Homo sapiens: one gene and its partners. The protein of the gene in region 6 purifies or fractionates together with the protein of the main gene of each other region. This does not show direct contact. Each region holds a gene or a part of one and is shown on either strand. Other genes may lie near its edges. The genes, in order: TRIP12, EEFSEC, ARID3B, PRR14L, TRMT44, BCAT1 and ATXN2.

Region 1 (4,616 bases), on a different chromosome or scaffold from region 6:
GAAAAAAAGGCAAGAGGCCTGTATATGAGGCCTGTGTGTGTCGCATTTACACCCCGGGGGGGTTGAGGAATGGAATTAGCAGAGGTTTAGAGACAATAAATTGTAGAGGATTTTATTGAGGCTGATTTTCATATTTACCACATGCAAAGTGATCAATATTAAGTGTAAGTTTTAAAGTATACAGAATTTCTAATTCTTTCTTTTGACACTTCCTGCTGTGTGTTCAGCCCCAGAAATGTTGAACTGCTGTGACTATCTTTGTGAGATTGAGGGAGTTTTATTTTAAGCTTAAGAGTACATAATATGATTGGGGTTTGTGGGCTTTGTACATGTCTGCCTTTCTATGAATGTGCCAATATCCATAAGAATTGGAAAACTGTAATTAAGATTATCATTGTTTCCATTCAATCCCCAGTTTTTCTGGAGTGTGAGCAGTTTTTAAGTCTGTTCAGCTGACATTTATACTACTTAGTTTGAGTCTATGAACAGGCTTTATTTTTCTTTTTTTTTTTCATTTACTTTCAAAAAGTTTGAGAACAATTTTGGCAGTTAGGTTCCAGAAGGTGCTAAACTAAAGTAGTTACATTTAAAAAACGAATGGGATGCTAGGTAGATCACGGTAAAATCAGTACTTTCACCTGGCAAAGTAAATTTGTAGTAATGTATGATTCCATGTATGATTCCTTTCCCATTGTAACTTTTTTTTTTTTTAAAGCAGAATCTTGCTCTGTCGCCTAGGCTGGAGTGCAGTGGTGCAGTGTAGGCTTAATGCAACCTCTGCCTCCTGGTTCAAGCGATTCTCCTGCCTCAGCCTCCTGAGTAGCTGAGATTACAGGCACGCGCCACCACGCCCGGCTAATTTTTGCATTTTTAGTAGAGACAGAGTTTCACCATGTTGGCCAGGCTGGTCTCGAACTCCCGACCTCTCAGGTGATCCGCCTGCCTTGGTCACCCAAAGTGCTGGGATTGCAGGGGAGAGCCACCACGCCGGCCCCAGTGTAACTTGTAAGATTATTGTATTTATGTTATCTAGACAAGGTTTTAATATCCTGCTTTATTTTAAGGTTTTCATCTTAGCAAGGAAAACATCACTGGCTTGGAAATTCACACACTACCAGTTAGTAGCTTTGTGACCTTGAGCTAGTCACTTAACCTATCTGGTCTTCATTTATTTTATCTGTAAAATGGGAGTGGGTAATCTCTATTTTACCTCACTGGGTGGTTGTGAGACCCAACAGATGTAATGACTGAAAAAAAACAACATGCTAAATAAATTAATTTTAGAAAATTACATGAGCTGTTTTGAGGTCATTTTTAAAAGATACAGCTTCTCATTAGTCGTGGTGGTCCATGGGGCAGGGGAGAATTAATGTAAACTAGGTTGAAGGTACAGAGTTATAGAACTTCATAATTTGAAATTGCTGCTTAATTGGTAGTAGAATTTGGGTCTCATTTTTGTCTTTTTAAAGTTACCTTCTTTTTTTGGTATCAGCATGCCAGATACTTGTTTGCCATACATTCTACTGAAAAAACTTGTTAATATGTTTAAAGAAACTTCAAATTCATTTACGTTTTTTATTGACAAAGTACCTGTTCTGGTTTGTGACTCTAATGAAATTGACTTAATGTAAGAGATTACAATTAGGGAATAATGCTTCTGAATCTTGGTCACTGTTTTCTTTACAGAACCTAGGGAACTTTCCCCCCTTTTAAGTGGATGGGTAGGGATCTTTTTGAGCAAATGTGATACCAGTTGCTCCTTTATTTTTTTGTTTGCTATTTGATGGACTCAAGTCAAAACAGCAACCTACTTGGTTTTTTAATCTTCACTGAAATCATTCCTTGCAATTGCCTGTTTGACATGGACTTTTCCCTCATTTAAATCAAGCAAGCACCCACTATGTACAGAAAAACATAGAAGATAAAGGATGTGAAGAACAACTTACAACTCATGTCTTCAGATCACTTCCTCGAACAAGTTTCTACCTGTGATCTTTGTATTTCTGATTAACTGTACTTGCTTCGTTTCTGCATTACAGTATTGCATTTGTTGACATGTGTTGCTTTTGTTTCCCTGATTGGACTGTAGGCTTCCTGAGGGCAAGGATGATTTCATGTCAATGTGGTATGTGTGAAGGTATACTAATAAACCTGATTGGTCTGGGTGAGGTGGCACTGGAGGTGAGGACGTGGGAGGATCGCTTGAGGCTAGGAGTTGTAGCCCAGGCAACATAGTGAGACTGTCTCCACAAAAAAGAAAAAAAAAGTTAGCTGGGCATGGTGGCATGCATCAGTAGTTCTAGGCAACTTTGGAGGCTGAAGCGGAAGTATTGCTTGAACCCAGAGATTTGAAGTTAATAGTTATGATCATGCCACTGGACTCCAACCTGCTTGGAAGGGTTCTTTGACCCCAGCAGATTCTTCAGAATGCTTTCTCTTGGTTGGTTCAGTGATCAGGGCCTCTTCACATCTCCCCTGACTAACGTGCCATTAGAGTGCCTGGATGGATATCAACTGTCACTGCCATGTTTTAGTGTTAAGCCAGTGGATTATTCTGTGCCACTTTTTTCATAGGCCAAGCTTTAGTTAATAAGGCCAAGCCTGAGGAGAGTCCAGGCCAGATAGGGTGGAAGAGTAAAAATCTGGTGGATGTTACAGAATAAATATAATTTTTAGATTGTTGTATATAATCTTAGTGCTTGGTAATTTTTTTTTTTTTTTTTTTTTTTTTTTTTTTTTTTTTTTGAGACAGAGTCTCGCTCTGTTGCCCAGGGTGGAGTGCAATGGCGCGATCTTGGCTCACTGCAGGCTCCGCCTCCAGGGTTCATGCCATTCTCTTGCCTCAGCCTCCCGAGTAGCTGGGACTACAGGTGCCAGCCACCACGCCCAGCTAATTTTTTTGTATTTTTAGTAGAGATGGGGTTTCACCTTGTTAGCCAGGATGGTCTTGATTTCCTGACCTCGTGATCCACCCGCCTTGGACTCCCAAAGTGCTGGGATTACAGGCGTGAGCCACCGCGCCCGGCCAGTGCTTGGTAATTCTTAACGTGTAGTGTAATGTAAGCTTTACTTGTGTATTTTCTTTTGGTACTTGTGTATCATTTCAGCAGCTGTGTTACAGACTTGAAGACATAACCTCAAAGCAGTTGTTCTCTACCTCTCTGCTGGGTTTCTCTGTGCATAATGGATGCTTGCTGTTATTTGTAATAAATAGATAAGTATACCGATGCTAGACCTGTCCCTTGATTTTTCTTTTTTTTTTTTTAAGTAAAATTTAACTCTGCTAATGTCTTGGGTTTTTTAAAAATGTAGTTCTTTAATATCCTAACTTACTGATAGTTTTAGGTTATTGGCAAAAAGAGGTTTCCTAGACTGAAATAAGTCTGTTCAGTCATTTTTCTCTGAGGCCTTTTAGATTTTGGTTGTTTATTGTGATTTCAGTGATTTCATTAAACTGAATTGGATAGAAGAAAAAGGAACTTACCCATTATTCAGGCTTACCTGCTTTGTCTTGAGAGTGCAGAAGCTATTGGCAGTAGTCAGTTTCATGGTTATGCTTGTTCGTTTGTTGAGACAGAGTCTCACTTTTGTCACCCAGGCTGGAGTGCAGTGGCGCGATCTCGGCTCACTGCAACCTCCACCTTCCAGGTTCAAGTGATTCTCCTGCCTCAGCCTCCCAAATACTGGGATCACAGACGGGCACCTCCACACTTGGCTATCATGGTTATGCTTGATTTAAAAAGTCATTCAAATGGTCTAGAGTGAAAAATACCTGCTACTGTGTGTTTTCCTTAATAGCACTGTTCAAGTGATTATCTGATTTGAAGGCAAGACTTAGGTTCCAATCCTGGCTATGCATTTCCCATCTTTGTAACCTTGGGCAAATAATTTAACTTAGTACTTTGTGAGCTTCAAGTGCCTAATCTGAAAAATTTGATTATTACCACCTAATGTAGAGTCAGTTGTCATTTATATGCTAGACATTCTGTATTTAGATTAGGCTCCACAGATGAATTGGAACACAAGGCCCTTTCTCCACTTGTTTACAGTACTGTGGACCATTGCCTCATTTGTTAAAACTCTTTTAACTCGAACATACCTCTGTTATATGCATAGGTATCCTACTTGAAACATTTGACCCAGTGGCTCATGCCTGTAATTCCAGAACTTTGGGAGGCTGAGGCAGGAGGATCACTTGAGCCCAGGAGTTTGAGACTAGCCTGAGCAACTTAGTAGAGACCTTGTTGCTACTAAAAGTAAAAAATTAGCTGGGCATGGTGGCACATGCCTGTAGTCTTCAGCTACCTGGGAGGCTGAGGTGAGAGGATTGCTTGAGCCTGGGAGATGGAAGCTGTGCTGAGCTGTAATTGTGCCACTGCACTCCAGCCTGGGTGACCGTGAGACCCTGTCTCAAAAAATTTTTTTTTTTTTTTAGTATACAATAGTATTCCTTAGTTGATTATGAATTCTTTAAAGTCTTTAGCCCTCACCCTTTTTTTAACTTTTATAAGGACACTAATCCCAAGTAGTGTCCCTTTTTATCTCTGCATCTAGCACAGTAGCTGGCCCATGATAGGGATTAAGCGTTTGTTGACAGAATAAGTCTTGTGAAAATA
Region 2 (4,616 bases), on a different chromosome or scaffold from region 6:
CAGGGTGTCCTTTAGTGGCTACTCTCCTGCAGCATGGAGGGCCTGGCAGGACAGACCATTGTAGCAGTCCCACGGGAGAAGACAGACGAGGCTTCTCCAGGTGCCCTTTCCTTCAGACTGAGCGGAAAGAGCTGAGAGCATGGCAGAAGCTTGGAATGCAGTCAGGGAGTTAGGTGGTTTTGATCTCCTGTCCACCTTGCCAGGGCATGGACCTCTGAGCTGAGTTCACCTTGGCAGCCTTGATGAACTGCTGGTCAGCCACATTCTCTGCCTTCCTCTGCCCTGCCCCATCTGGCTCCTCTCCCCACGGACTGTGGCACCAGTTTCTCTTTTCTAGCTCCTGACGTCCCAGATTTCCATCCCAACGAGAGATCCCTCGGGACCGTTCCTCATGTCTGTGGACCACTGTTTCTCCATCAAAGGCCAAGGCACTGTGATGACAGGGACCATCCTTTCAGGCTCCATCAGCCTCGGTGACAGTGTGGAGATCCCTGCCCTCAAGGTCAGTCTTACCTTGTCTTCCCTTCTGGCCTCCTCGCTGGCAGCAAGGGAGGGGGACTGTCCCTTTGTCTGTTCAGCTGCTGAGCCTGCTGCTGTGCCTGCCCTGGGACTCCCACTGCCTGCTCCGCCCCACCTCCCCTCTGGCTGCCTGGCCCCGCCCGGCTCCAAGTCTTTCAACTCAGATTCTAGGACTGCTGCTCTCCCTAATTCTCATAGCGCCTGTTTATTGGAGGCCTATGATGTGCCTCAAGGAGGTGTTCCCAAGTAGGTCTTCTGTGTAGATAAAGAAACTGAGGCTCCAGAAGGTGAGGTGGGCTTGAGATCACATGGTTAACAAGTGGGGCTGCTGGAGGGGAAACCTCCCTTTCTGGACGCTGTACGTCAGGGTGGCAAGTATGTGTGGAGTTATTTCTGGGTACCTTTTTCTTAACCACAGTAATTTCAAATTAAACATGACGTGAATCTTATGATGCTCAGAATCACAGAATCTGGAAGAAATCCAGGTTGGTTTTGCACTCCTGGTGGCCATCGACAGATGCCGCATTATTCTTCTGAAGACCTGTGAGAAGGATGAGTGGTTGGTGCCTTCCCATCACCCCTCCTTCTACTATGATGGCCTGGCTCTGATTTAAAAGATAGTGCCTTGATATTCCCCTTATTTAGAAGGCATTTTTAATAGTTTTACTTTATGCGACAAGAGAAACTTACAGCCTCATTGACTGCCCTCCCCTTCAACAAGAATAAAAGGTAGGGAACACATGCTACTTAGAATTCATGTGAGACCTTGCCTGGAATGCTGGGGTCCAGGGCAGTTCTCTAATCCTTGAAGGAGCCTACAGTGCAGGGAAGTGGAGGTGCTCAGCCCTGTGGACTCAGCTAGCTGCTAGAGAGGCTTGGATGTGCATGATTTCAATTTGCATGTTAATTGGGAATGGCTACCTGGAGGCTGTATTGAGGCATTTTAAGGTTGTCTGGCTCACTAGGTGTGTTGGTTAAGGTTCTCCGGAGAAACAGAACCAATGGGAGATACAGATATCTAGGTATCTATAGATACATAGGTAAAGATACATAGATGTAAATATGTAGATATCTGTATCTCCTATTAGTTTTGTTTTGCTGGAGAACACCAACTAATGCACCTAGTATTAGATGCAGATAGATAAATAGATACGTTTTTTAAGGAATTTGCTTATACTATTATAAAACCTGGCAAGTCCAAAATCTACAGGGTAGGCTGGCAGGATTGAGGCCTAGGGAGGAGCTGCAGCTTGAAGGCCATTTGCTGGCAGAATCCCCTCTTCTCTGAGGAGGTTAATCCTTTTGTTCTTAAGGCCTTCAACTGATTGGATGAAGCCCACCTACATTATAGGGGTCATCTGCTTTACTCAACATCCACCAATTTAAATGTTAATCTCATCTGAAAACACCTTCACAGAAACACTCAGAATAAAGTTGGAGCACTGTGGCCCAGCTAAGTTGACACATAAAATGAACCACATCACCCGCTGGGTGAGAGGGCCATGATAGCAGCACCTGGCCTGAGTGAGGGAAGTGGAGAGGGTCCCTACTGGCACCCATGTCTTGCGTGTGCCATCCCTCATCTAGAGCAGCATGGTTGGATATAGGGAAGGGGCATTTCATGGAGGGCAGGCATGAACAGGGTTCCCCCAAATGAAGGCAACCTGAGGTTTCAACCCCCCAGCTCATTTTACAGCAGTGTGTCTATTACTTCCTTCTGCAGGGGCCAGGGGTATTAGGGAAGAGTCTCCTGACCAGAAAGGACAAAACAAAAGAAAGGACTTGGCTCTGGCCAGGTTCCAGAGCTCCTTGGATCTAGTGGGAGGAGTCGAATGGCAGGGCCCCACCATATCCAAGGAGCCCTGGAACCTGGCCAGAGCTGGGTGTTAGGATGTCCCCCAGACACTGTGAGTCACAGTCCCCTCCTTTACCTGCTGTCATGTCCTCCTCTGAAGACCATTGGTCCCAGAAAAAGACCACTTGAATAAAATCTAGTTTAAGCCAGGGACTAAAAGTGCAAATCTTCAAAAATAAAGCACAAAAGTGTAAAAGTAGATTCAGTTTATATTTAACAAAATTAAGATTACTTTGGTGACTGTTTGCAGATTCTTTGCTAGAACAGAAAATGAATCAGTACTAAATTTCTTTCCAGTCTCTGTGCTTCCTAAGTCAGACCTCTGGGGGCCACTCTGACCTGGCATCCCTTCCACTCTGGGAGAAGACATGCTTGCAGCTTGGGAGAGGACCTGGGAGTATGAAAGAGGTGTCAAAAGAGGGCTCTCTGGGGGGTGGGGTAGACTTTGAATTGGGGGTACCTGAGGTTCTAGAGGGAGAAAAAGGTTTTTGATAAGAGTCAGTGGCTGCAATGTTAGGGCTGAGGGCATGGAGAAGGGCTGAGGCAGAGAAGTCAGTAGTGGTAAGGAGGCAGGGATGTTCGAGTGGGGTCCTGTTCTGAGCTTTTTGGCCACCCTCTTTGTCCTTATAAAGGTGGAACTTGCCTATCAGGATGCCAGTTACTGATCTTTAGTACTTGGGCACATGGCAGGTGCTTGGCAGATACAAATTTAATTCTCCTTTTACTTTTGTGCACCTGTTTTTCCCCAGCCTACTTTTTAACACTTTTGGTGTCTACTGCCTGATGATCTAATTTACTAGTCAGGAAAAGCAGAACTTGTAAGCAATGTACTGAGACATTTGGTTAAGGAGATTTCTAAGCAAACTGTGAAAGATGCTGCCTTGTTTCTCCATTGATGCTTATAGTAAAACATGAGGGAAAAGGAATGAATTGAGGAAGGAACTGTTAGCAAACAGAAATCAGCGCTTGATGATTTCGGAGGTTCTCAGTCCCTCTAGATTGCAAAGGATGTTAAGATTAGGAAATTCACTGCTGAGAAAGCATACCTTGGAGAGAAGGCCAAAGGTGAGCCTGGACAACCTTCTGTTGAAGAGAGGAGGTGTGTGACTCACAGATCCAAGCAACTTAGCAGCAACCAGAAATAGAGATGGACTTCTATAGCAAAGTTATGCGGAGAGCCGTCTTGGCTAATGGCATGGACCCCTTGATGTATATAAGAGACCCTCAAGGGTTTTGAGAATGTTATACCAGCAAGAACACTGGACTGAAAGGGAGAGAGACTTGACAAATGAATAAAAAGCTGTCAGACTTCTGGGATTCTACAGACAAGAAACAGGCTGATAGAACAACTCAGCTACAAACACATGTTATCCTTCAAAAACTAAAAAAGGAAGAATGACTCTGAGAGCAGGGCTCTGGAAACAGAAGTGAGGCTAGGGGAGTAGCCACAGAGGTCAGTCTCAGGTATTGAAACCTCATGGAATTTGCCCTGCTGTGTTTTAAACTTGCTTGGGACCAATGAACCTTGTATTTTTTCCACCGTCTCCCTTTTGGAATGTTAGAAGTAGGTAAATTGTTTTCTAGGTCCACAGATGGAGAGGCATTTTGCCCCAGGATAGACCATATCTAGAGTCTCACCCCTACCTGATTAGGTGACTTACATGATGACATTAGGAACTTTTTGAGCTGATGATAATTTAGATGAGATTTTGGACTTAGAGTTAATGGCCTAATGGACTGAGAGTTTGGGGGATGTTTGAAGAGGTGAATGTATTTTGCATGTGGGATGGATGTAAATTTTGGGTACCAGAGGGTAGACTATAGTAGGTTAAATTATGGTCCCCCAAAATATGTCTACCAGAACCTCAGAATATGACCATTTTGGAATAAGGGTCTTGCAGATGTAATTAAGGTAAGGATCTTAAGAAGAAATCATCCTGGATTAGGGTGGGCCTTAGGTCCAATGACCAGTGTCCTTATAAGAGACAGACAAGGAGAAGACACGGAGAGTCACAGAGAGAAGTCCATATAAAGACTAAGGCAGAGATTGGAGCTCTGTTGTTCCAAGCCAAGGGGTGCCCATGGTTGCCGGAAGCCCCCAGAAGCCAGGAGAGAGGCATGGAGATGAGTCTGCCTCGGTGCCTCCATGGGAACCATCCCTGCTGACACGTCGATTTGGACTTCTGGCTCCAGAACTGTGAGAGAAGAAATATTTTGTTGTTTTAAGATATCAAATTTGTGG
Region 3 (3,822 bases), on a different chromosome or scaffold from region 6:
TTTGAGGGACCCGTACCCCAGGAACCTAACAGTAGGCAAAGTGGGCTGGAAGGGCCCCATCCCATGCTCTGCAGAGAAGGGCATGAAGGCATGCTCTTGGCTCCTGGCAGCCCCACATGGGACTTAAAAACAGGGGAAGAGACTAGTGGCCCTGGGGTCATGGCAGAAGGCAGGGTCAGGGAAATAAATTAAAAGGGGAGGGAAATGGAGGGCCTCCAGCCCTGCGTCGGCTGACAGATTGTCGATACACTGTGCCCTGAGCTGGGAGGTGGCTGGGGAACCCTGGAGGAAGCTGGACACCCACAGACCCCCACCCAGTTCTCCAGGACAATCCCTGATTGGACAACGCTGTCTGTCCTGCCCCTCTAGCCTCTCCCTGCCCCCAGAGTACAGCAGGACCTGAATGGAGCCTGGACAGACGGACACGTCCAAACTCTCAATGTCTGGCCAAATGGTGCTCGTCGACGTGGGCTCTGTGAGATGAGGTAAATTCTGTGCATCAACTTCCTTCACTCTCGACAGGAGAGTGGCAAGTGGGAAGCTGGGTCCTGCCCATCAGAGGGACCAGCTGGTGGAGGGCTCTGCGCTGGGGGTGCCCCGGGATGAGGTAGGACTTGGTGAACAGTGAGAGCTGCTGCTGCTGCTGGCGCTGCTGCCGAGGCTCTGGGGAGCAGACCCCGTGATGAGGTGGACCACAGGCTTCTGGGCAAACAGCACACCTTGGTGGGTGGAAGAGAAGCAAGTGTGGGCAGAGGAAGAGCGAAGGGGAGGGCCAGCTCCTTTCAGTAAGTATTCACCGCTGGCCTAGCCTGTGCCTGACTCCGCTGTAGACACTGTGCTAGGGGGTGATGGGAGAAGATCCAAATGCTGTCCTGCCTTGAAGTGCTGATGGGCTGGGGAGGGGGACAGATAGGTCGACAGAGTAATTTTGCTAAAATGTCATAAATGCTCTGAGACAAGGTGTACCCAGGGTACACAAAGAGGAACACCAAGGCCAGGTGTGGTGGCTCACAACTATAATCCCAGCACTTTGGGAGGGTGAGGCAGGAGAATAGCTCAAGGCCAGGAGTTTGAGACCAGACTGGGCAATACAGCAAGAGCCTTGTCTCTATAAAAATTTTTTTTAAAATTAGCTGGGCATGGGTAGTCCCAGCTACTCAGGGGGCTGAGGCAGGAGGATCACTTGAGCCCAGGAGGTTGAAGCTGCAGTGAGCTATGACCGCACCAATGCACTCCAGCCTGGGTGACAGAGCCAGGTGGGGTGGGTGACTGGCTCCCTTCTTGTCAGGGGTTTGAGGAGCCTTCAACTTCTGACCCTTCCTCATTCTGAGAGGGAAGGAGTTACCTTCTCCTTTCTCCTTGACAGAGGACAAAAGGATATCAAGATCCAGGCCTTGAATTCCTACTTCCCTGCTTTCTCCATGGACCTAATTCCAACCCCCAACCCTCCCAAACCACAGCACAATGAAGAGGCAAAGGGCACCAGGCCCCACCTCCTCCAGGGGCCTCCTGTGACAGGTAGAGACCTCTGAGCAGAGTCTGCAGACATAGCATGACTGGTGAGCCCACTTGGCACCACTGCTCCTCTACACTCTGTCCTCTCTCTGAAGTGAGTGGCCCAGCAGAGATCCAGAGCATGCTCCCAGGAGGCCTGCAGGGCGGTGCTCTGAGGGAGTGTGGCCCTTAGAATGGGAGTAGGCCCTGAGGAAACACTCCCAGTTGTGATAGAAGGTGCAGTTGTAGGGCTTTCGCCTGTCTCCACGAGACACCTTGCCAGGCTGGCTGACACTCCGCATGCCCTTGGGCCCTTGGTAAAACAGGTGGGTGATGCCCTGGGCCAGGCCTGGTGGCCCCCACTCATAATACTGTGCTTTTTTTTTTTGAGACGGAGTCTCACTCTGTCGCCCAGGCTGGAGTGCAGTGGCGCGATCTCAGCTCACTGCAAGCTCTGCCTCCCAGGTTCACGCCATTCTCCTGCCTCAGCCTCCCGAGTAGCTGGGACTACAGGCACCCGCCCCCACGCCTGGCTAACTTTTTGTATTTTTAGTAGAGACGGGGTTTCACTGTGTTAGCCAGGATGGTCTCGATATCCTGACTTCGTGATCCACCCGCCTTGGCCTCCCAAAATGCTGGGATTACAGGCGTGAGCCACCGCGCCCAGCAATGCTGTGCTTAACAAGAGTCAGGTGGGCTTGTTCCCAAGCTCGTCCGTAAACCAATGAAATGGGAATGGGAAAAGGACTGCTGTTTTTATGAATATTAAGTTTTGTTTTTTTTTTTTTTAATTGAGACAAGGTCTTGCTTTGTCACTCAGGCTGGAATGCAGTGGTACAATCACGGCTTACTGCAGCCTCGACCTCCTGGGCTCAAGTGATCCTCCTGGCCTCAGCCTCCCAAGTAGCTGGGACCACAGGTGTGCACCACCATGCCTGGCTATTTTTTTTTGTATTTTGTAGATTTGGGATTTTGCTATGTTGCTCAGGCTGGTCTCAAACTCCTGGGCTCAAGTGGTCCTCTTGCCTCAGCCTCCCAAAGTGCAAGGATTACAGGCATCAGCCACCGTGCCCAGTCATGAATACTAAGTTAAACCCTTAGAAAGACTCTGTAAAGGTGCGAAATCAACCAACCAACAAAACACTGTTGCCAAATTAGGTTTAGGAAAAGATAACTGTAAAAGACTGGGGGGCAGGGAGCTTAACAATGTAAGCTGATTCTCCTATACTGGGGTTCCTTTGCCTGTGTCTCAGTCTGCAAAAGGAAGAGAAGAGCTGAATTACAGTCAGAGAAAGGCTGTGCATGAGAAGACCTGGGGATTGTGGGACACTGACTGACTTCTTCAATTAACGAGCCAACCACTGGTCTAAAAGGGTTAGGTGAAGGGTTTCTGCCAAAGTGGGAGGGACCTATCATCCTGTTAACAATCCACAGTCTACTAGTCCAGAGGACCACTTGACCTTTGCAACTCTGAGACCAGGAAAAAGGAAGCCACTGTGGGAGGTGTTCAGACAGAGGGTAAGAGGCAGGGCCAGCCGCAGAGCTGCCCTGTGGCTAGCTGCGGCCACGTGGGCCTCCCCCAGAGCTCCAGGGCCTCACCTGCATAGGTGGTGCCATCGATGTCCACAGACATGTTAATGCTCCCAATGCTACTCGTGGTCAGGTTCAGTGCTGCAGCCGAGGCCTCTGCTCTGTCTTCTGCTGGGGACAGGGAGACAGTGGGCCTGGTCAAGCCTTCCACAGCACTCCTGTTGTCCTCTCTGATGCTGCCTGGCCACCCCTGGTCAAAGCCTCACGCTGTTAAAAGGCATCTATGTAACCTTCTCCTGAGTGTAGGGTATGGCAGGAGATCCCAGGCTCGCCAATCTCCTGTTGCTGGCTTTTTCCACTGACCCAGTTCATCCCCTCAACTACCTCTGCTCCCAGAGAAAAGGAATCACAGTAGGCAAGGAGGCCGGCTCCGGCCCCACCACTCTGCACTGGCACTTTCCAAGTGACGGGCAAACCCTGAACTACACTATACACCAGGCCCAGGAAATCAGAGATCAATGAGACCCAGCCCCAACTTTGAGGACCCACCTGCCCTTTCTTTCCTTTGACTCTGAGTCCCTCAGAGAGAGGAGTCTACGCCCTCAGCCCCTCCCCTCCATGACCACCCAGGCAGCTGGCGTTTGTGGAAGCCTGCAAGTGCTGGCACACACGGCCTTTGGCTGGCTCACCCCAGACTCAGAATTCTTCCCGGTGAGCTGTCTTTTCTAACAGCCCTTTGCTTTGTGCAGGAGCAGGGTACCTGGCCCTGGATGAGCTGTTACCTCCCAGTTTCCTTCT
Region 4 (4,616 bases), on a different chromosome or scaffold from region 6:
TACCTCAAACGCCGTTGAGTAATTGCAGAGGGGATTAGTGGGAGCTCTATACCACCATTGTTGGTGTCTGTAGGTGTGCTTTTCTGAAACAAAGGGAAATAGAAAAGTTATTCTTTGGAGTCTTAGGATATTTATGGGTGACAAGACCCTTTGAGCTTATTTTGATGAACATGTGAAAAACAAGCCCGGGAAAGTTCACTTAACTTTCACTTAACACACTCAAGACTCTGCATCTAGTATGTGAGAGCAGGATAAGGGACCCTGGCTTCCTGATGAAGAGACCAGCAGTTAAGACTGCTGGGAGAGGCCAGGCGCGGTGGCTCATGCCTCTAATCCCAGCACTTTGGGAGGCCGAGGCGGGTGGATCACCTGAGGTCGGGAGTTTGAGACCAGCCTGACCAACATGGAGAAACTCCATCTTTACTAAAAATACAAAACAAATTAGGTGGGCATGGTGGCACATGCCTGTAATCCCAGCTACTAGGAAGGCTGAGGCAGGAGAATCGCTTGAACCTGGGAGGCAGAGGTTGCGGTGAGCCGAGATCATGCTGTTGCACTCCAGCCTGGGAAACAAGAGTGAAACTCTGTCTCAAAAAAAAAAGACTCCTGGGAGAGGGTCAGGCGCGGTGGCTCACACCTGTAATCCCAGCACTTTGGGAGGCCGAGGCGGGCGGATCACAAGGTCAGGAGATCAAGACCATCCTGGCTAACTCAGTGAAACCCCGTCTCTACTAAAAATAAAAAAAATAAAAAAATTAGCCAGGCGTGGTGGCGGGCACCTGTAGTCCCAGCTACTTGGGAGGCTGAGGCAGGAGAATGGCATGAACCCGGGAGGCAGAGCTTGCAGTGAGCCAAGATCGCGCCACTGCGCTCCAGCCTGAGCAACAGAGTGAGACTCCGTCTCAAAAAAAAAAAAAAAAAAAGACTGCTGGGAGAAGTATTTGTGCGTTTGCAAAGAAAGAACATGAAATAATTGTCCTCAACGTAAAAGAATTTCTACTTTTACTGGAATAATAATTTTCATACTTCCTGTAAGTATTAGTCAGTTTTTGGGAATAAATCCATTCCCTACACATTCTAATATAGTACTTATTTGTGTTGTGATAAAGACGACAAGCCAGTAGCAGCTGTCAAAAGTCGTTCATAAATCTATGGTTTATTTTTTGCTTATACCTCAAACTAGGTAATTATCTGGTATCCTCACCCAATAGGTTGATTATAAGTCATTAGCAAAGATTAAGCTGTAAATCCCTGTCTACATTTTATAAGCATGTGTTACTCACTCTTCCCTTTTACTTCACATTTAACACTTTAATGTAAAAGCATTGGTGGTTAAGGCAGAGAGCTGACAGCTGGAAAAATACTGATAAAACATACTGATAAAAAATACTGAAAATACACTTATCAGCTGTTTTTATTGCTGTGTGTTTAGATCTTGAGAAATAATGGTTAGACAACATTTTAACATATGTAATATATACTCACTGTTTTGAAAAATAAGTACAAGGCTGGGTGCAGCAGCTCACTCTGGGAGGCCGAGGTGGGAGGATCACTTGAGGCCAGGAGCTCAAGACCAGCCTGTGCAATGTAGTGAGACCTTGTCTCTACAAGAAATAAAAATATTTGCTGGGTTCACTGCCTCGCGCCTGTAGTCCTGGCTGCTTAGGAGGCTGAGGCAGGAGGATTGCTTGAGTCCAGAGTTTGAAGTTATAGAGAGCTGTGATCAAGCCACTGCATTCCAGCCTGGGCCACAGAGACCCTATCTCCAAAAAAAAAAGTTCAACATACAGATAAGTCATTGGTGATCCTATTGTCCAAGGTAACACTGTGATACTTGGCTTATATATATATATATATTTTTTTTTTTTTTTTTTTAAACTGAGTCTCCCTCTCACCCAGGCTGAAGTGCAATGGCGCGATCTCTGCTCGCTGCAACCTCTGCCTCCCAGGTTCAAGCGATTCTCGTGCCTTAGCCTCCCAAGTAGCTGAGATTACAGGCTCCTGCCACCACGCCCAGCTAATTTTTGCATTTTTTAGTAGAGATAGGGTTTCACCATGTTGGCCAGGCTGGTCTTGAACTCCTGACCTCAAGTGATCTACCCGCCTCAGCCTCCCAAAGTGCTGGTATTACAGGCATGAGCCACCACGCCCGGCTGTAGAGATGTATTTCTACATCATCCTTTTAGATTGCTCCATTGCATTCAGGAATTTAAAGAACTTGAATGTCTTCTCAAAATCGGGTTCTGTCACTGCAGTCTTGTGGCATTACCAATATTTTGATAGATGGTGTGAGCTACTGAGCTGAAAATAAGTTTATTTTTATTTTTTATTTTTTATTTTTTGAGACGGAGTCTCGCTCTGTCGCCCAGGCTGGAGTGCAGTGGCACAATCTCCGCTCACTGCAAACTCTGCCTCCCAGGTTCATGCCATTCTCCTGCCTCAGCCTCCCGAGTAGCTGGGACTACAGGCGCCCCTCACCACACCCGGCTAATTTTTTGTATTTTTAGTAGAGACAGGGTTTCACTGTGTTAGCCAGGATGGTCTCGATCTCCTGACCTCGTGATCCGCCTGCCTTGTCCTCCCAAAGTGCTGGGATTACAGGCGTGAGCCAAAGCACCCGGCCATGTTTAACCTGCCACTCTAGGCTTGCATTTAATATCACCTCACCTCTTAGGGTTCCAGCTGTTCTTGGTAACGTATCTGCAATTCTGTTCAGAAATTTGAGGACCCAGAATTAGTCCAGGAGAAAAAGGAGGGGGTGTCTGTTTTGGTTCTCTAGCCAATGTGCCTAGTTGTTTTACAGGTTGAAATTCTTAGAATTTGGTCCAAACAAGAGTATCAAGAGGTGAACCATTTTATGTGATTATCAGTATTCACTGTTTATGATAAAGATCTGTTTAGTAAACCTGTATTTGTGTATGACCGTATGTGGAGCAACATTTGGAACAAATGTTGAGCTAGAACTGTGGGGATGGAAATGAATATGATTTACTAGAAACACTGCAGGGAGTTGAGTCCACAGGCTGCAAGTGCTGATTGAATGGTGAGGGGAAGTCAGATATGGTTATGGCTGGGGATTCAAATCTAAGCTCTAGAATATTGATGGTGCCTTTTCTGAGAAGCAACAGGATTAAGAATCAGCATGTGGCTAGTCACAGTGGCTCACGCTTGTAATTCCAGCACTTTTGGGAGGCTGAGGTGGGAGGATTGCTTGAACCCAGGAGTTTGAGACCAGCCTGGGCAACATAACAAGACATACAAAATTATCTACAAAAATAAAAAAGTAGGCCGGGCATAGTGGCTCACGCCTGTAATCCCAGCACTTTGGGAGACCAAGGCGGACTGATCACCTGAGGTTGGGAGTTTGAGATCAGCCTGACCAACATAGAGAAACCCCATCTCTATTAAAAAATACAAAATTAGCTGGGTGTGGTGGCAAATGCCTGTAATCCCAGCTACTCAGGAGGCTGGGGCGGGAGAATCTCTTGAACCTGGGAGGTGGAGATTGTGGTGAGCTAAGATCGCACTGTTGCACTCCAGCCTGGGCAACAAGAGCGAAACTCCATCCCAAAAAAAAAAAAAAAATTAACCAGGCATGCTGAGGCAGAAGGAGTTCAAGGTTATAGTGAGCTATGATCGCACCACCACACTCCAGCCTGGGCGACACAGCAAGACCCTGTCTTTTTTTTTTTTTTTTTAATGAATGAGCATGTAAGTTTGCTGAGGGCGTCTTATTTATACCTGTTTCTCAAAGCTGTTTGCGTGTAGAAAGACTCAAAGACTCAGTTATTCAATAGATTGAATGAATTCTGTTTTAAACTTGGTAAGTTTTGGGGGTGCCATTCTTGCAAGTGAAATGTAGGTTAGGAATTGAAAGAAAGGTTGGGGTCAAGGTCAGGTTCTTTTTTTTTTTTTTCGAGGCAGGGTCTCACTGTGTCACCCAGTCTGGAGTGCAGTGGCCCCATCTCAGGTCACTGCAGCCTCCGCCTTCCAGGTTCAAGCGATTCTCCTGCCTCAGCCTCCCAAGTAGCTGGGATTACAGGCGTTCGCCAACATGCCCAGCTAATTTTTTGGATTTTTAGTAGAGACAGGGTTTCACCATGTTGGCCATTCTGGTCTGGAACTCCTGACCTCAAGTGATCCACCCACCTTGGCCTCCCAAAGTGCTGAGATTACAGGCTTGAGCCACCGCTCCCGGCCAGGTTCTTTTTTAAAAGAAATCATTTTTTTAAGATTTAATTCATATGCCATACAATTGACTGATTTAAATTGTACCAGTCAGTGGTTTTTGGTATAGTCACAGAGTTCTACAGCCATCACCATAATTGACTTTAGAACATTTTTATTACTCAAGAAAGAAACTCTGTGTCCCTCAGCTGTCACTCCCAATTTCTCCAAGAATCCCAGCCTTTTTTTTGGACAGACTTTCGGTTTTGTCTCCCAGTCTGGAGTGCAGTGGCGCAATCTCGGCTCACTGCACCCTCTGCCTCCCAGGTTCAAGTGATTCTCCTGCCTCAGCCTCCAGAGCAGCTGGGACTACAGGCGCGTGCCACCATGCCCAGCTGATTTTTTGTATTTTTAGTAGAGACGGGGTGTCACCGTGTTACCCAGGATGG
Region 5 (3,500 bases), on a different chromosome or scaffold from region 6:
ATTTGTCATTTCCATGTTTTTTTTTTTTTTTTTTTTTTTGAGACAGGCTCTCACTCTGTCGCCTAGGCTGGGGTGCAGTGGTGCAATCTTGGCTCACTGGAGACTCAACCTCCCGGGCTCAAGCGATTCTCCCTAGTAGCTGGGACCACAGGCAGATGCTACCATGCCTGGCTAATTTTTTGTATTTTTTGTAGAGACAAAGTTTTGCCATGTTTCCCAGGGCTCAAGTGTTCTGCCTGCTTTGGCCTCCTAAAGTGCTTGGATTACAGGCTTGAGCCACTGCCCGGCTTCCATGTATTTTTTTAATCAGTCACGTCTTGCTCTGTAACAAAAGCACCCCAAAGGTCACAGGCTTAAAGCTGTGACCTTTCATTATTGCTGAAGCACCTGTGGGTCCCCGGGGTTGGCTGACTGAGGCTGGGCTCCCTCCCACATCCTGGCCTCGTGGTCCTTTGCCATCTTGTTAGCTATTTGGTACCGTCCAGAAGGTACTTTTTATGTTTTTCCAGCTTTTGAAATTGTTTCTAGTGGGATGGTTCATCTGTATTGTCTAAGGCGCTGTGACTGGAAATAGAAATTTCAACTTTTAACATTGGCCATTGGTTTTTCCTGTTTTGCCTAATGCCAGTTCTGAACATGACTAATTTTAATAATGAGAGCTCATGTTTGCACAGCTAGTGCTTTACAGTTTTCAGAGCACCTTGATTATCCTGTGTGTTAGTTGAGGCATGGCTTTATCCCTGTTTGACAGGTAGGGCGACAGCAGCCACTGATGGACCAGGGGCTGGAGCACTGGTCTCCTAGTTTGTGGCTCGCGGCTCTCCCTGCCCTAGTTTCACTCCCACGCCTAGTTTCCTTGTTTGTTGCCCTTATCTGCATAGACAATGAGCACAGTGTAGCTAAGTGTTTCCTCTGTGTCCACTGCCTCAGCTAAATGCCTTAGGTACATTCTGTTGATTGTGAAATCTTGCTTTGGATTGGATTGTTCTTGGCATGCCTTGTTTCTTTATGTAAATCTTTTATTGTAAGAAACCAGTTGTGAATTCCTGCCTTTGAGCTTATGTTTCCTATTTTAGTGTACGATTAGTCCAGTTTGATTTATGCTTTATAGGGATACTTAAAGTATTGGGAAATGGTGGTGGGGAAACCGAACAATTTATGTTTGCTCTTGAAACTGTTTTAGGTGTGGCCTGAAGTCACTGATCCTGAGAAGTTCGTGTATGAAGATGTGGCTATCGCAGCATACCTGCTGGTAAGGGTGTAAGCGACCTCAGCTTCTCTGGAGTGGGTGGAGTTTGCTACAGGCAGATGTTCCCTGTAGTGAAGGACATTTTCCAAATCCATAACTGCCGGTGCTCACAATTCTGCTGGCCAAGGTTGGTTTCTCGTGTAATGGTTTGACTTCATGTGGTCCTTTTGATGCGTATACAACAAGTTTGGGTTGAAACTTGACCTCGGGTTCCAACTTGACCTGCAGGCGGAACTGTACGTCCACACTCAGCAGTCATCGTGGAGGCACCGGCTGGCACAGGGAAGCACTGAGGAACACGTGTCTTCCGGCCCTGGCCTAGAACCTTCTAGCCCTTTCCTCAGCTGGCTCGCTAGCTGGCTACATTTGGACATGCCCTCTGATTTAATCATCTTGGTTTACTTATCTATAAGAATGTTTAGAGTAGGCTGGGTTTGGTGGCTCAAGCCTGTAATTCCCAGCACTTCGGGAGGCCGAGGCGGGCAGATCACTTGAGGTCAGGAGTTTGAGACCAGCCTGGCCAACATGGTGAAACCCTGTCTCTACTAAAAATACAAAATTAGCCAGGCGTGGTGGCAGGAGCCCATAGTTCCAGCTACTGGGGAGGCTGAGGCAGGAGAATTGCTTGAACCCAGGAGGCGGAGGTTGCAGTGACCAGAGATTGCATCATTGCACTCTAGCCTGGGCGGCAAGAGCAACACTCCATCTCAAAAAAAGAAAAAAAAAAAAGAATGTTTAGTGTAGATGATTTCAAGTTTCCTTTCACTCAGAGTTTTCTTTGACCAGTTTGTGTCTAAATTATTCTTGCGTAGAGTGAATTACCACCTGACTTTGTTTTGTTTTTCTCTTCACTTAGATTCTATGGGAAGAAGAAAGGGCTGAGAGGAGACTAACTGCCAGGCAGTCCTTTGTGGACCTGGGATGTGGAAATGGCCTCCTGGTCCACATCCTGAGCAGTGAGGGGGTAAGGCCCGGCTCCATCACCTTTTCTGGTAACTTGTCCAGAGTTTCCTCAAGTCAGGCACAGGGTTCACTGACATCTTTTTCTGCTGATACAGCCTGGATTTGGAGTCAGCCAGCTATCAGAGTAGGTAGAGACTTATAAATTTCTGTTAATCTGATAAACAAACAGCTCCTAAAACAAGGGAAACGTGGTGATCTCATTGGACCTAAGAGGAAGTCCCCGGGCCCCGGCATGGACCTATAAAATGACAGGCTTTGGGTAGCATGGATGTTTTTTTGCTGTCAGATTTTTCTTTTGAAACCCACCATCTCAAGGAGCTGGAGGGAGATAAAAAGCAAGGCAGGTTCTGCACTTGAGAAGCTTCAGGCCAGGCACGGGGCTCACGCCTGCAATCCTAACACTTGGGTGGCCGAGGCGGGTGGATCACTTGAGCCCGGGAGTTTGAGACCAGCCTGGGCAACATAGTGAAACCCCATCTCTGCAAAAAAAAGAAAAACAAATAAGAGAAGCTTCAGTTCTGGCTCGGACGGCCAGTCATGTATACACAGACAACAGTATGGAACAGTGTGGTGTGTGGTACTGGGTTTTGCCCTTATTTTCTGGATGTTCAGCTGATGCAGTGAAAGCACTCTTGGGCTGAGAGCGGCACCTGCCCAGGTAGCACGGTCAGTAGGGGTGGGTGTCTTGTGCCTGGAACTTCCTGCCAGCAACTTATACCCCTCCTGGTGCGTCCAGCGCGTCAGGTGCCATTACCCCATGATATGATGGCCAGCTTAGCCACTTCCTGCTAGGGGGCAACAGCTGGAACCTGCAGCCCAATATTGATGGTTCCAAACTGATTATCTTCCTGCTATGCTGTACTGTACAGTACTGTACTGATAGGCTGCGCATATTTGTCTACACCTGTAAGAGCTTGAAATGGTTGTTACAATGCCCTTTTTCAAGTGTGTTATTAAAGAATGAGTTTCTAATCATAATACCTATAAGCTGGTTGTGGGGGTGGTAGTGTATCAGGTGGCAGCTTGGTAGCTGGTACCTGGAGACAGCTGGGAGGTGTCTCGTGCACCCCTCCTCTTCTGCAGGCTTGGCAGAAATAAGTTTGCCCTATGAGAGCCAATGAGTGTGGCCAAGGTGCAAGAAGAGCCAGCAGCTGACCTTGACTGAGAGCAGAGAATTGGCTCACGTTCTCAGGTGTGCTCCCTGGGGCACTGGCCCTGGAAATGTTCCCACACTAAAGGCCACTGTGGTCACTCAACTCCATGTCCCATCTTGAACTCCATGTCCCAT
Region 6 (4,694 bases):
TTACTAGATTATGTAACTATCTTTTTTATATTTTTAATTTCTGTGGGTACATAGTAGGTGTATATATTTATGGGGTACATGAGATGTTTTGACACAGGCATGAAATGTGAAATAAGCACTTCGTGGAGAATGGGGTATGCATCCCCTCATGTGTTTATCCTTTGAGTTACAAATAATCCAATTATTCTCTAAGTTATTTCAAAATGTACAATTAGGTTATTATTGACTATAGTAACTTTGTTGTGATATCAAATAGGAGGTCTTATTCATTCTTTCTATTTTTTTGTACTCATTAACCATTCCCACTTCCTCTGTCCTCCCCACCAACATTACCCTTCCCAGCCTCTTGTAACCATTCTACGCTCTATCTCCATGAGTTCAATAGTTCTTTTAGATCCCACAAATAAGTGAGAACATGCAAAGTTTGTCTTTCTGTGCCTGGCTTATTTCACTTAGCATAATGACCTCCAGTTCCATTCAAGTTGTTGCAAATGACAGGATCTCATTCTTTTTCCTGGCTGAATAGTACTCCATTGTGTACATGTACCACATTTTCTTCATCCATTCATCTATTGATGGACACTTAGGTTGCTTCCAAATCATAGCTATTGTAAACAGTGCTGTAACAAAAATAGAATTGCAGATATCTTTTTGATGTAATGAGTTCCTTTCTTTTGGATGTATACCTAGCAGTGGGATTGCTGGATCATATCATACCTCAATGTTTAGTTTTCTGAGGAACCTCCAAACTGTTCTCCATAGTGGTTGTATGAATTTACATTCCCAACAACAGTGTAAGAGGGTTCCCTTTTCTCTGCACCCTTACCAGCATTTGTTATTACCTGCATTTTGGATATAGGCCATTTTAACTGGGGTGAAGTGATATCTCATTGCAGGTTTGATTGCACATATCTAATGACCAATGATGTTGAGCAACTTTTGGTCATGTAACTATCTTTAAAACAAATGCAGCTTGATCCCTTTTTAATGTAATCAGTTCAGCTTCAAAAACTGGTATATTGCATTTGGGATACAAACAGTCAACATGAATCTTCCAACTCAATTTATTTGTTTCAGCTCACGAACTTTTCAGAATCCCTAGTGGCTTAGTGACAAAGACCTTTGGAGAGAATGATCATGGGTTTTGATCAACACTGTCGCGATTGCATACAGACATAGCTAGAGAACAAGCCCAGTGATTATTCTACAGACCATAGGAAGCATCTACACCTCAGCTGTCGGCCGTTTGGTTACAGAAATGCGATCCTGCAAGTTGTCACCACTATACATAAAGTCAGGCTATGATAGCATATTTCACTTAAAAATAAATTATCACAATATAAGGCACATATGTATATGGAATCAGATTCATGATTTGAAAAATATGCTTAAATCACACTGAATCAGCTTAGCAGAAAAATAATTATAAAATTTGAAATATCCCCTTTTCTTTTTGTTTTGTACTAAATCAATGTAGAAAACACACTTTCTACCCTGAAGGAAACTGCTGTCTTATCTGATAAATTATATAAGCTCCAGTAAATGTATGTCATCACCCTCAGGAATGACAGGTCTCTCTTTCTCACGCTTGTGGGAATTGAGCGTTGACACTGTAAGAACACTTGACTAATAACCTTTGCCTAGACCTTCCAAACTCTGCGCGTAACTTCTTGAGAGATCTGAATAAAGGCCAATATTTTCACAGGTTGACAGGGTCTGGAGAAGTGGGTCACCGAGCACTCTGACATTTTTAAGTTCAGTTTACAGTAACTCTTTGCAAAACTTCAGGTTTTGCTGTACTTCAAATCATTTGGGCAAATTATAAGAAAATGAATACAAAATGTGTGACCCTTGGGTAATTCTGCACTTGGCTTTGTTCTCCCTTGGTGCTTTTGAGGACAATTTCTGCAAGGCCTGGTTTGGCTAAAAGGGACACTTCATTGAAGATCTCTAGGCCTTTTACTTTTTAAAGTGTCTTTTATTCTAAAGCTAGTTAACCACATATAGAAGTATGGTGTTTATCAGTGATGTAGATCCATTATGACAATGAATGGGAAGAGGTAATCTACTCCCCCCATTCTGTGCAAATCTCAAACGACAAAGCTAAGTTTTACTACAGATAAATCCATAACCAGGGGAAGGAAGAATTTTTAAATGCCCATTTTTTTCTTGTCCAAATGTTTGAAAAAGAAACATATTGAATCTCTATCCAGTGGTGTGGTTTCTGGTCTTTCTGGTGTGCTCAATTCTCTCTGTGTCATTTTGGTGTAAAAATACTATCCTACATTTACTTCCCTTGACCAGAAACCTTGAGACATCATAAAAATGTTAATTTAGCATTATTACTTCATGCATTCAACAATGCTGATTTCATGAAACCACACAAACAGGATTCTTTTGTTTTATTGATAACAGAAACTGTGCATAATTACAGATTTGATGAGGAATCTGCAAATAATAAAGAATGTGTCTATTGCCAGCAAAATACAATTATTCCATGCCCTCTCAACATACAAATATAGAGTTCTTCACACCAGATGGCTCTGGTGTAACAAAGCCATTTTAGATGTTTAATTGTGCTTCTACAAAACCTTCAGAGCATGAGGTAGTTTCCTTTACCTACGATATTTTCCACATTTCCATTATTACACTTTTAGTGAGCTAAAATCCTTTTAACATAGCCTGCGGATGATCTTTCACAAAAGCCAAGCCTCATTTACAAAGGGTTTATTTCTTTCTACTCAATTTTTCTTAAAAAGAATTTCAAGAATCACTACACAGCTAAGATATCTGAGACTTGCAATGGCTGGAGTCTATCAGTACAATAGTAATTGCAATCAGATTCAGATACAAGAGAACAGGTTCTAACAATTTCATAATTAAGTTGATATTCTGTTTCTATCTATAAGCTCACATTTAAAAACTACTTCCTCGAACTACTTATTTTTCCTCAGCCACAAGTAAGCGCAAATCCTTAAAAACAGTGGGTTGAGCCCCAGCTCCATGTATTAGGTAGCTAGGTATATTGTGGGATTATTCCTTGTTAAGTCACCCCAGGAAACATTTGCAGAATTTAGAAATGCATCCAGATTTGTGAGTTTATTTTTAAGACCTGACTAAAAATCTGCACTCTTCAAAAACTTATTGATGAAGTACAAATTGAGGCAGAAATTTACATTCCTTTCTTAACCCTGAGAATGAGTTTAATGATCATAGGAAACTAGTTTGAGGAAACTGCAATGTGTTATTGCACATTTTAGTTAAAAACTAATAGTCAACCAATTTCCAATTCAGTAAACCTTCCACCTATCAGGATAGGAGATAGTAAATAGTATCTCTAAGGGAAAAAAGTCACAATCTACTTCTTGTCTAAACTTATTATTTTATTTGGCCTCAAGAAGCTTCATGGATCTTAGAATAAAATGGTTGAAGAAATGACACAATAGATATTACTTACTATGCTATTATAAAATAAAGCCTAGTCCAAGTTGATAATAATCTAAAGTGGTTTCTATGTAACACAACCTTCAGATTATAACCTCAATAGTGTGACCTAATTCTAATATCTGATGAAGTGTTTGCTATATTTAGTCACTACCTAGTAGCATTATTTGTATTTAGCAACTACATTGAAAGCTGAAGAAGATCTCAATGCTTGACAGAATAAGGAAAAAGCTCCTTTGGATAACACAAAAATATGTTTTGTTTTTTTCCCCTCCTCTATCATTCCTTTCTTCTCTACCTCCACTTATTCTTCCTCTGATATCATCTTTCATTAAATTTTTCTCCAGAATCCAATAGTGAGCAACAGGAAACCTAGCCATTGTGATAGTGGATATGTAGAGAAAAGCCAGTGAAACTATATTTTAATTCATTCTTACACCACAGCCTACATCAATTCTTACCATCCCAACAGTAGATTACATAAACTGAACATCATGCAACTCAAGTTATACGTCTTGTTGATTGGGTCTATTGTAGAATGAAAAATACACTTTCAGACAGAATAAGATGACTTAAAACTTCAATACTTGTATCCAGCAGATTTGAAAGGGCACTTCAAATTTGTTCTTCTTTTTCTCCCCCATCACCCCCATTTCAATTTTTAAGACTGATTTCATGCCTTTATCATTTTGAAGCAAATATGTTTATATATGTCTGACCCCAGGAAATTATTTACCCACAAACACTACTATAACTACTATACTCTGTTGATATGTTTCATTATCAACCTCCCCAAATTAAACATCTGACAAGTCTTTTATATATGTATGCTGAAGAGAAAAAATAAATCACTTTCTTCCACCTTTGAATCTTTAAAAGGGGTTTGTGGTAATGATAAAAAATTTATCTCTTTCCACACATTTAAGACCTCATACTGTGCAAAATCATGGTTATATGAAAGTTATTTTCTGAATAGCTGGATCCATCACCTTCAAGCTAATACTTTAAACAGCATGGTTCATAATAGATATTTTCTAGAAAAATTCACTCTAGGATCATTTTCTTTGTTTATTTCCATCTAATCTGGCTTTGCTGAGAAAATCAGCAAGGATGCTGTAATCTGTGGTGTTAATTTATTAGGTGCACCATGATAACTCAACATTGTTTGAAAAGAATTCAGTCAACACATGTACTAGGTTGGTAGTAAATAGTAAAGAAAGAGAAGGTAATTCACACCAGATGAGGAATGG
Region 7 (4,616 bases), about 87 Mb from region 6:
ACACGGCCGCCCTCCAGGCCCCCCTCGCGGCCATCCAGACCCCCGTCTCACCCCTCTGCTCATGGTTCTCCAGCTCCTGTCTCTACTATGCCTAAACGCATGTCTTCAGAAGGTACAATACCACAATTTGTTCATGTTTTTGTTTGTCTTTGTTTAACTCCTATGTGAGTTTATAATTACAAAATAGTTTCCTCTTCATTATTTAATAACCTATAATTTCTGTGTTTTAACTTTAGTTTATTAAAACTATTTCTATTAACCTTTTGTTCATTAGAGAGAAATTTGATAAATGTGTGAAGCTATAAACTCTCTTGAATTGTTGTTAAAAAGGGGGTTTATCTCTGCCTGATAATTATGCTTCTTTACAGCCCCAGAAGGGTCTGCCCCACAGCCTTCCCCCTCCTTATTTGCACTGTATACAGTAGTTAAACAAATGAACTTTCTTCAGCCAGTCTTGAACTTAGGTTCATTTTACAGCTCTTTGGCCAAGGTCCTAGTGAACCTTCCTATTGGCCATAAGCAGGGATGGTGTTTTCTGGGTCTTTTTTGAGAGCGACAGCCCATGTAGCTGACTTTGCGTGTCTGCCCTTAGATTAAAGTAGTTGATTTTTAGAATGCCAGAAGAATTCTAAATTTAACTGAGTAATTTTTTTAAAGTTAGCTTTGCAATCTTACATAGTGAAAGGCTGCTTTAATCTGGAAGAAGTCCTTGATCTGAGATAAAATTGATAAAAACGACATATGAATTTGAATATTTAGCTATTTCTTTCCTCGTCAAAAATAAGAATAAAATCTTGTAATTCTTATTCAGTATTTGGCGCTAAATCCATCATTGCCACATATCAAATACAGGGATATGTTGTAGAAAGGTAACATTCTAATTTAAATGCCACCCATATATTAAAAACCTGTTTTCTGAATCATAATGTCCTTTTGATACTAGTTCTGAATATTTGTGTTAAAATTTTAATCTGATTTGTTCATTAAAATTAGTTAATATTGCTTATGTTGGGACTAATAAAGTTTTCCGCACAAAATGTGTTTCTCCTGCTTCCCTGGAGAAAACTGTATTGGCTACTTTTAAATAAATTGTTACCATCTAAGCAGGCAGGTCATATGACTTTGACTGAAGCATCTAACCTTGAAGAGCAAGTTCCACTGATTTTCAAGGTGACTTCTTTGCTCAAAAGGGCCTTAATAGTGGTCACTAAATGCAAAATTCTGTTGATATTTTTCTTGTAGTCCATCATTTGAGTAAGCGATGTTTATTTAATGAGAATATATTAAATAAAACATGATCATTAATGACTGTGAACATCTTTATTACATTAAGATTTAAGGACTGCTCATGTATTAACTTCACACAGAAATATACTTTCTGTGTCATTCAGAGATGTTGAATATTTCCATTTGAAAATTATAGTGTATAACATTAGCATTCTTCTAAAGATCATGTTCGTGTTTAAATTCCTGTTGGAAGCCAGGCATGGTGGCTAACGCCTGTAATCTCAGCACTTTGGGAGGCTGAGGCAGGTGGATCACTTGAGGTCAGGAGTTTGAGACCAGCCTGGCCAACATGGTGAAACCTCGTCTCTACTAAAAATACCCAGCTACTTGGGAGGCTGAGGCAGGAGAATCACTTGAACCTGGGAGGCAGAGGTTGCAGTGAGTTGAGATCGTACCACTGCACTCCAGCCTGGGCGACAGAGACAGACTCTGTCTTATAAAAATAAAAATAAAATAATAATTCTATTGGCAACATATATTAATTTGAAGTTCTAAAGAGTTTGGCAGCCGGGTGAGAGAGTGAGGAGATTTGGCTTTGACATTAGGGAAGTTTTCGCTTGGTGTTAACACCAGTAGGCTTCTCTGATGAGGGCCATTCTGTCCACTCTTTTACCTGATAGATTGGTCTAATGCACAGTAGACTGATTTAGAAAGAGTAGTCACTAGTGGCATGGCAGAATCAATAATGTAGAATTTTGACAATTCATATAGTGCTGATTTCTCCCCCAAATGTCAGTTATTTTGGTCATCTATTAATAGACTAATACAAGTCATCCCTTTAATAGAATTTTCAGCTCACAGCCTGCTAAGCCTAAGAAACTGCTTACAGGTTACTGCTTACTGTTTTAAGCCGAGTTTTAAAATTGATGATCATGATAGAAGAGATAAATAAACTAAAATTTTAGAGAAATTTAAGAAGGGTATGTACATATGTTTTAGTGGTATCGGGGTGTATAGGGATTAATAGTCTTCTGTTTAAATTTTTTTTTTCTAATTTTAGAAGTAATGTAGAAAATTCGGGTCAGGGAAAGGTAAAATATATGGAAAGTTAAAAATATTTTATCATGTAGTCATAATTTCTAGTAACATATTTCTTTACAAATAAGACATAGTTGAAACAGATTGCTACAGTTCTTTTAAGAGTTGACATCTTATTGTTGATTTCTTACCACCAACTTCATCCCTCCCTTTCTTTAAAAATAAAGGGAAATAATAAAATTTATTTATAAAACTTTGTGGCATTCCACAAAATAATTCTGAAAGAATTAGTATGGCCAAAAAAATATGTATGGTGTTTTTTTTTTTTCTATTTTTAACCAAGGAAAAACTGTAGAGTGAGTGAGTGTGTGTGCATGTGTGTGTGAATGGGTGTATTTAGCAGAAAAGTAGTACTGATGAATATCATGGAATTTATGTGATGTTCACTGTTTCTTCCTTAGGGCCTCCAAGGATGTCCCCAAAGGCCCAGCGACATCCTCGAAATCACAGAGTTTCTGCTGGGAGGGGTTCCATATCCAGTGGCCTAGAATTTGTATCCCACAACCCACCCAGTGAAGCAGCTACTCCTCCAGTAGCAAGGACCAGTCCCTCGGGGGGAACGTGGTCATCAGTGGTCAGTGGGGGTAGGTAACACTTGGGCATAATGATGGTACTCATTTTGTCATTACACTAGATATAAAGAGGGCTGAGCTACAACTCTGTTTGAGGAAGTGTAAGTATGTATATGTTAAAAATAGTAGAATCACCAGGAATTGGGAAACCCATATTTTTATTCTGGGCTCTACCACTTATTCATCATATATTAAAGCAAGTCAGACACTCATTCTGAAGTTGAGATTTCGCAGTGAGTAAAGTGTTAATAATTCTTGCCTAGTCTACATTATGGGATTGTGATGAGATTCCTATAAGGTTCATAAATACAGATATATTGTAAAACTATAAAGTTTTGTAAAGTACCTCTCTAATATGAGGCAAACACAGTATGTAACACTATTTGGAGGGACCGTATTTCCTTATCTTTTTAGCAGCTTTGTTTATCAGTACATTCTATAAACATTTATTTTTGGCTTACATTGTAGTGTGTTTCTATAGCATCTGTATATGGCACTAATTCCCAACTATATTTCCATAATAAGGAATATCAAATACAAATAAAGGGTCCAAGTTTTATTTGTGATTAGCATAAGGAATATGCTGACAGCAGCTATAAAAGTATAAAAATTAGGCTGGGTGTGGTGGCTCACGCCTGTAATCCCAGCACTTTGGGAGGCTGAGGTGGGCGGATCACAAGGTCAGGAGATCGAGACCATCCTGGCTAACACGGTGAAACCCCGTCCCTACTAAAAGTACAAAAAAAATTAGCCGGGCATGGTGGCGGGTGCCTGTAGTCCCAGCTACTTGGGAGGCTGAGGCAGGAGAATGGCATGAACTCGGGAAGCGGAGCTTGCAGTTAGCTGAGATCACGCCATTGCACTCCAGCATGGGCAACAGAGCAAGACTCTGTCTCAAAAAAAAAAAAAAAAAAAAAGTTTAAAAACTAGACGTTGACATGATTTTACAATAAGGCTGACTGCTTTTGCTACTTTGCCAATCAGTCCTTAGTGCTTTGTTCCCATAACTGTGGTAAGCAAGAGCTTACAAAGAATACTTAAAACAAACAAACAAACAAACAAAAAAAACACTTTTTCTCTTTTAATCAGTCCAGAGAACCTTTAAAAGAAACAAGATCGGCCAGTTGCTGTGGCTCATGCCTGTAATCCCAGCACTTTGGGAGGCTGAGGTGGGTGGATCACTTGAGGTCAGGAGTTCAAGACTGGCCTGACCAACATGATGAAACCCCATCTCTACTAAAAATACAAAATTAGCTGAGTGTGGTGGCTATTTGAGAGGCTGAGGCAGGAGAATCATTTGAACCCAGGAGGTGAAGGTTGCAGTGAGCCAAGATCACACCATTGCACTCCAGTCTGGGTGACAAGAGCGAAACTCTATCTCAAAAAAAAGAAAAAAGAAACAAGATCTTCAAGCTTAAGGAAACAAAAACAAAACTCAGCTGTGTTAAATCTGTTTTTAGTTGCTATACATTTCTGCTCAGCTTCATGTGATGCACATTCATGTAATTGTATCCTAAATTCCTTTGTACTTTTTATTTTCTTCCTTGGTCTTCAATTATCTTAAGACTACCAAGAAAACAAAAATTTTAAAAATCTTCTTCAGCCGGTCAGGCGCAGTGGCTCACGGCTGTAATCCCAGCACTTGGGGAGGCTGAGGCGGGTGGATCACGAGGTCAGGAGTTCAACACCAGCCTGGCCAACATGGTGAAACGTCGTCTC

What was found.
Region 1: the proteins of BCAT1 (region 6) and TRIP12 purify together in Homo sapiens (affinity purification with mass spectrometry; 3 studies listed by BioGRID and IntAct, with this or other methods). This does not show direct contact.
Region 2: the proteins of BCAT1 (region 6) and EEFSEC fractionate together in Homo sapiens (co-fractionation; one large-scale study listed by BioGRID). This does not show direct contact.
Region 3: the proteins of BCAT1 (region 6) and ARID3B purify together in Homo sapiens (affinity purification with mass spectrometry; 2 studies listed by BioGRID and IntAct, with this or other methods). This does not show direct contact.
Region 4: the proteins of BCAT1 (region 6) and PRR14L purify together in Homo sapiens (affinity purification with mass spectrometry; 2 studies listed by BioGRID and IntAct, with this or other methods). This does not show direct contact.
Region 5: the proteins of BCAT1 (region 6) and TRMT44 purify together in Homo sapiens (affinity purification with mass spectrometry; 2 studies listed by BioGRID and IntAct, with this or other methods). This does not show direct contact.
Region 7: the proteins of BCAT1 (region 6) and ATXN2 purify together in Homo sapiens (affinity purification with mass spectrometry; 2 studies listed by BioGRID and IntAct, with this or other methods). This does not show direct contact.

Annotation. Positions count from the first base shown.
Region 1 is NC_000002.12:229,915,510-229,920,125, reverse strand, and holds part of TRIP12 (E3 ubiquitin-protein ligase TRIP12), read left to right. Parts: intron 1-4,616. UniProt on the Homo sapiens protein: E3 ubiquitin-protein ligase involved in ubiquitin fusion degradation (UFD) pathway and regulation of DNA repair.
Region 2 is NC_000003.12:128,264,280-128,268,895, forward strand, and holds part of EEFSEC (selenocysteine-specific elongation factor), read left to right. Parts: intron 1-337; coding exon 338-502; intron 503-4,616. UniProt on the Homo sapiens protein: Translation factor required for the incorporation of the rare amino acid selenocysteine encoded by UGA codons. Replaces the eRF1-eRF3-GTP ternary complex for the insertion of selenocysteine directed by the UGA codon.
Region 3 is NC_000015.10:74,592,508-74,596,329, reverse strand, and holds part of ARID3B (AT-rich interactive domain-containing protein 3B), read right to left. Parts: intron 3,196-3,822; coding exon of another isoform or gene 3,193-3,195; coding exon 3,094-3,192; intron 720-3,093; coding exon 556-719; 3' UTR 1-555. UniProt on the Homo sapiens protein: Transcription factor which may be involved in neuroblastoma growth and malignant transformation. Favors nuclear targeting of ARID3A.
Region 4 is NC_000022.11:31,743,103-31,747,718, reverse strand, and holds part of PRR14L (protein PRR14L), read left to right. Parts: intron 1-4,616.
Region 5 is NC_000004.12:8,450,777-8,454,276, forward strand, and holds part of TRMT44 (probable tRNA (uracil-O(2)-)-methyltransferase), read left to right. Parts: intron 1-1,183; coding exon 1,184-1,252; intron 1,253-2,105; coding exon 2,106-2,213; intron 2,214-3,500. UniProt on the Homo sapiens protein: Probable adenosyl-L-methionine (AdoMet)-dependent tRNA (uracil-O(2)-)-methyltransferase.
Region 6 is NC_000012.12:24,808,976-24,813,669, forward strand, and holds the end of BCAT1 (branched-chain-amino-acid aminotransferase, cytosolic), read right to left. Parts: 3' UTR 1,049-4,694; downstream 1-1,048.
Region 7 is NC_000012.12:111,511,650-111,516,265, reverse strand, and holds part of ATXN2 (ataxin-2), read left to right. Parts: coding exon 1-112; intron 113-2,726; coding exon 2,727-2,909; intron 2,910-4,616. UniProt on the Homo sapiens protein: Involved in EGFR trafficking, acting as negative regulator of endocytic EGFR internalization at the plasma membrane.